Regions from separate parts of the Homo sapiens genome. Here region 1 is linked to region 2. The links come from fine-mapping of genetic effects on gene expression. A gene starts in region 2. The other region holds a variant in brackets. All regions are shown on one strand. Distances are between the middles of the regions.

Region 1 (2,914 bases), 41 kb before region 2:
AAAGGGACTACAAAAACATCAGATTAGGGTCCCTATTTACAACAGGAGTTAGGCATGTAAGGGAGGCAGGTGTGGGATGGAGAGGGGGAGCCCCATCTTAATACAGCAGCTGTTACTTAGCTTTAGTGGAGGTTGTAACAAAGGAATCGGAACTCAATGTTTCCTGATCATCTGATTTTTTAAAATCAGGATGTAAGAAATTTTTTACATGAAAACTCCATTGTGCAGGCCTTTCTGGAGAAACTGACCCCAGGCCAGGGCCTCTGATCTGTTTTTTTCTTTCTTTTTTTTTCTTGTTTTTTTTTTTTTTTTTTTTTTGAGACAGTGTCTCTTTCTGTTTCTTAGGCTAGAATGCAGTAGTTACAATCACAGCTCACTGCAGCCTTGATCTCCCAAGCTCAAGGGATCCTCCCATCTTAACTTCCTGCATAGCTGGAACTACAGGCATGTGCCACCACATCAGGCTCAATTTTAATTTTAATTTAATTTTTTTGAGACATAGTCTCACTCTGTCGCCCAGGCTGGAGTGCAGTGGTGTGATCTCGGCTCACTGCAACCTCCGCCTCCTGGGTTCAAGTGATTCTCATGCCTCAGCCTCCTGAGTAGCTAGGATTACAGGGGTGCACCACCACACCCAGCTATTTTTTGTATTTTTAGTAGACACAGGTTTCATCATGTTGCCCAGGCTGGTCTCAAACCCCTGACCTCAGGTGATCCACCCACCTCAGCCTCCCAAAGTGCTGTGATTACAGGTGTGAGCCATAGCACCTGGCCTAATTTTTTTCATTTTTCTGTGAAGACAGGGTCTTCCTGTGTTGCTCAGGCTGATCTCAGATTGCTGGTCTCAAGCAATCTGCTCTCTCGACCTCCTTAAGTGCTGGGATTACAGGTGTGAGCCACTGCACCCGGCCCAATCTATTCTTATTCTGGCTTGCATCAATCATTGACCAATGAAAGTTGACAAATGTGGCCAGGCACAGTGGCTCACGCCTGTAATCCCAGCACTTTGTGAGGCCGAGGGGCGGGGGGTGGGCAGATCACTTGAGGTCAGGAGTTTGAGACCAGCTTGGCCATCATGGCGAAACTCCGTCTCTATTAACAATACAAAAAAAAAAAAAATTAGCAAGGCGTGGTGGCAGGCACATGTAGTCCCAGTTACTCCAGAGGCTGAAGCAGGAGAATCGCTTGAACCTGGGAGGTGGAGGTTGCAGTGAGCCGAGATTGCGCCACTGCACTCCAGCCTGGGTGACAGAGAGAGACCCCATTTCAAAAAAAAAAAGTGCCAAATGTGTCCCTTCAATTCCAGTCAGCACTTTTGGAAACACGCGTAAAATTGTTGCCAATGTGCATTCTGTGTGTTTGGGAGTCATTGTGCAAAATGCGTGGGCAGCAAGCACTCTTTTGTGAACCAAGTTCTATGAACCACCAAGTATTCTTTCTCTAGGCTGAATTCCAAGGCTCTGTTCAGAGAGTACAGGTTTCTGAAGGAAGGGATTTGATCTATGTATGCGGCTTTCTTCTTAAAATGCCAGGAAGAAGGTTGCTTAACAAATGCTTTTGACATTCCTGACAAGTAATCTCCAGGCTTGACTTCAGGGGTGAGTTACA[C/T]CTCTCCCTCCCCACGCCTTTTTGAGAGTATTGCCAACAAGCAGCAGCAAAACTGATGTTCTTCAACTCCACCCTTTGGTGCATCACTGAAATGGCAAAAAGGTAGGAGGTGCAGAGGAGAACTTCAGGCCACGGAGGCAAGAAGTCAGTCATTGATTCCTGGCATGATTGTGATAGTCGTGTTTGGAAATCCAACCCATAAAATGAGCCACCGGTTTCACAGCGCACACCTTAGAGATCTCAGAAACATGCCCTAGGCTTGCTTGAGTCACAATAGCTGGGTTCAAATCTCCACTCCTGTTGTCTAAAGAACGAACTGTCTAGGCTAGTCTCAGCCTTGGTTTACAGGTATCTCTCCGCAGGGTTTTTTTGGGAGAACTATATTTGAAATAATGTGTGTGAAAGTTTCTGAGATATAGTAAGTAATAATACTTGTGGGGATTCTAAGGCTTACTTGCAGTGATTTAAGTGTATATGGGGAATATTTTTATTGTATTGCATTGGCATGAATAAAGACATTTGAGATTTGGATGTTTACGTCTTAAAAAGCCAGTGGTATTTAATATTTGCAGGAAGAAAATGTTGTATTTACCCTATAATATAGGAAACTTGGCCCATTTTTCTAATGATATAGAAAAAGCTCAATTAGGCTTAAATATGACCTAGCACCACCCCAAGCCTACAGCACTTGTATTCTCTTTAATAAAAATTGCGTAAATTATAGCTTTCTCTTGATTTGCACAGTACGGGCTCAATTCTACCCCCTTTCCCCTAAGTAGAGTTGTTTCTTACTATTTTTCAGGTTAACCAACTAATGTCAGACATATGTTTCTTCACCAAACACTGCATTAGGGGACGTTTATTTTACATTTGTTCCCTTTTGCAAATATTTGCAGTTAGTTGCAGAACTGAGCTATTTTATGAAGTACAGAAAATATGTCCAGGGAAAACATAAGGTTTCAAAAGTAGCTTTTGAGAAGGAGAAAGGAAGAAAAGTCTAATTACAGTGAAGATAGGTACTGATTTGTGCTAAGAGAATGTATAAATCACGTCCACTACACTCGTGGTTTTAATGCATTCTGTGCATCTGAATTAAACAGGAGCTAGTGTTTGAAATTATGTCTAAAGCTTTCTTCAGTGATTTGAGAATATAAAAAGTAGTGTTTCTTTTCTTTCAAAAGACATCCCTCTCGCAGTGTGCCTTCTATTCTTGACTTGTCTTGCTATAAAAGAAAAAGCTCTCACAGTCTTTTCAAATCTAAATAGTCTGTACATTAAAACAGTTTCTTTTTTCATTTAGGAAACT
Region 2 (2,914 bases):
AGTCATTTCTTAAATGGATCCCTTTCTAATGGCCCCTCTAGAATCTGAGTCATCTCTTTCAGGACAGGCCCAGAGGTTGAATTCCTGAAGTAGGATCCTGTCCTAGAAAATGGGGGTGGGGGGTTGCGGGGGTCAGGGGGACGAGGTAGCCTTATCTTCCACTGGATGCCACTGACCCCGGTAGCCTGAAGGAGAGTGCTGTGCTTTGGCAGCACGAAGGCAGACACTTCGACAGATGACTGTTCAGACTCAGGGATTCTCCAGCCATTACAAAACTTCAAGTTTTCTGCATTTCACTGGGGGATTTCTATCTCTTGTCATTGTAAGTTCTCCTGACTGGCTTAGCTTTGCATTTTCAGCGTGGATGAGTCATGTGTTACTTCCCTTTCACATTTTCATAAAACACACACCTTTTCCCCTGTGCATAATCCCTACTCCCACGCACAGCACTGCACTCCCGCACGTCTTTTTGTTGTGTACTGGCCCCTGCATGAACCTGAGGGAGGGTGGGGCGGGTGGTCCAGGGCTGTGTGGTTTATGAACATGCTGCCTATAGGATCCCACAGAATCAGCTCTTGGCATCACAGGCATCAGATGCCAGAGAGCAGGGACCTCCTCTGGCCACCCAACCCGGTGCGAAATTTCTTTGGAACAACATAAGCTTCTGGAAATTCCCTACGGAAAAGACAAGTCTATTATAAACACAATTAAAGGGAAACTGCCTGGAGAAAATTTACCAAAATTGTCCAACAACTCCCAAGTTTTGAATTAAAACATAAAAGAAGATCCAGAGTTCTATCTATCACCCAGATGCTCAAGCCCTCCCCTGCTGCTCGGATCTGTAAAATAAAACATGCCTGGTTTCTGTGATTTAACTCTAAAATTCTGCACAAACTTTGCAGCCAGCATGCATCTGCCACATGGAATCCCCCAACCAATGAATGGAAGCTGCGGTCCTAGAGACAGTTTCACAAAAACAGCTCCTTTCTCCCGTGGCTGGAGCCCCGGGGGGAAATGATTAAAAGCTGCTTAGTGATTTATTTGTCATTGCTTAGAGATACAGCTCATGCTGATGGCTCACTGCACTACAAATGTGACATCACCCCACCACCTCTTTTGCTGCTTAAGAAAATCGTGCCAGAGATAAAGTCAAGCCTAAGAAATCACAGTTCTCTATGCTCTACTCAGTTTGGAAAATGTACCATCCCAAGAAATTGCCTTTTTTTTTTTTTTCCTTTGCCGGGTCCCAGAGCTGCAGTTTATAAAAAGCAGCAAGCGGCAAGGGGCACGCGTCCCTGTAACTCCATCTTTGAATGGGTCTGTTACTTACCCTGCATCTGTCTTCTGTCTGCTGAGTAAGGAAGGCACGGCTCACATTTCTGGCTTTCATTTTCTTCCATTGTCTCTGCCTGCCGCAAAAGCTCCTCGCTCTCTGGAAACTTCAGAGCGCAGTTCTAAAAGCTCCCAGAAAGCGCCTGGGAGGGGGCCCGGGGCTGGGGAGGAGGGGACGGTGCGAAACCCCACCCCAAACTATTTTCCACTCCGGTGCAAAGTCTCCCTCGCCCGAGAAAACTGCATTCCAGCGCGGGGCCTCTTGGATCTCCCCTGCCCCTGGCCCTCCGTCCCTAGGTCTGTCCGTCCGTCCGTCCGTCCGTCCTCAGGCGCGCTCTCCGGGGACTGGGGGCTGGGCTCTGCCAGGGCAGGGCGATGCGGGGGTGTGGGGGGGAGGCCTCAACAGGTGACGGCCTCTCCTACCCACAACTGGGCCTGCCTGGTTCCACTGCTGCAAACCACCGAGGCTCTGCAGCCGAGGAAGGAAAACATTTCACACATGATTAAGGCCGAGAGCCTTCGCTGGGAGCCAGTGCCCTCATCTCTTTAATCTCAGAGGCAGAGTGAGCCTCCCAAATCGGGTGATCCACATATTAAAAAACAGCAACCTGTTGAACCTCCCAAATTTCAGTGAACTCCCTTAAAAAAAAATCCCAAACAATTTGAAAGAAAGAGTATATGCTGAGTGTTGTAAGTAAGCACTTTCCGGCACTAACTTTTTAGGGCCCGATTAACATCTATGAAGAGGTATAGCGTCATTTGCACACAGTCGATTTCAATCACTTAATCTGGACTTTTTAAAAAAAAGTTTCTACGTACTTGCTCACTTTCTCAGACTCCTCCCTCCCCCAACACACTTACACACACACACACACACACACACACACCCAGCCCTTAATCACAAATCTGAAAGGTAAACTAGTAAAGTCAATCTTCTGAAGCTCTCCCAGTTAACGACTCCAAAAATCTGAAAGACAGTGAAAATGCATTTCTTTGGACAGGCAGAGTTACAACCAACATACTTCTCCTTTTAAACCACCTACAAATATTTATTTTGTTCTTTACCCAGTCCTTGAAAAACTGGCAGAGTTCCCAGAGAGTGAAAATAGGAGGCATGATGTCCGAAAAAAAAAAAAAAAAGAGGATGGGAAAATAATTTAGGCAACATTAGCTCTGCGATGTCAGATATCTCAGAGTAACACAGTAGCTAGGAGGAAGAGCGCGATTTTGTAACCTGTAGTAGCCCCGTCACAGGAGGGGTAAAAAAGGACAATGGTTAGTCTGGTGACCATACTTTGCCCCAGTTTACAGGGCATTCCAGCAAGGTTTGAGATTGATTTAGATCAAGAATGTGTGCTGAACAATGGCCAGCCTATGTTCCAGATTGTGACCTCGAGTGACCTGTGTGTTTTGGCAGTGGGGGTGACGTATTTTGGCCATTTAAGACATAAGGATGTGGAAGCACCTAACAGACAAAGGATGTAGGCCAAAAGGAAAGGAGACATACCAGGAAGTGAGTTACACTCACGTCAGGAGGGGAAGAAGAGAGCCCCTCAATTCTTAACGGGATTTTTCTTGAAAT

Which allele goes with the higher level. Positions count from the first base shown, and alleles are read on the strand shown. Sizes are in standard deviations (SD) of each study's normalised expression.
As copies of T replace C in region 1, the expression in esophagus mucosa of the gene that starts at base 1,456 in region 2 goes down (small effect, 0.28 SD a copy in GTEx).

What was found. PIP is the estimated chance that this variant, and not a neighbour inherited with it, causes the effect.
Region 1: its variant is fine-mapped to the expression of KIAA1217 in esophagus mucosa (GTEx, PIP 0.90).

Annotation. Positions count from the first base shown.
Region 1 is chr10:24,248,805-24,251,718 of GRCh38, reverse strand. The region is part of intron 2 of KIAA1217; the gene reads right to left. Among named protein-coding and RNA genes, the nearest start is that of MIR603, 25 kb to the left of the region's middle. The variant C/T (reference allele first, on the strand shown) is at 1,609.
Region 2 is chr10:24,207,680-24,210,593 of GRCh38, reverse strand. It overlaps KIAA1217, which reads right to left and starts at 1,456. Exons shown (of 21, transcript NM_019590.5): 1 at 1,331-1,456. The coding sequence starts at 1,400. RefSeq lists enhancers at 638-697, 71-1,270 and a silencer at 988-1,037.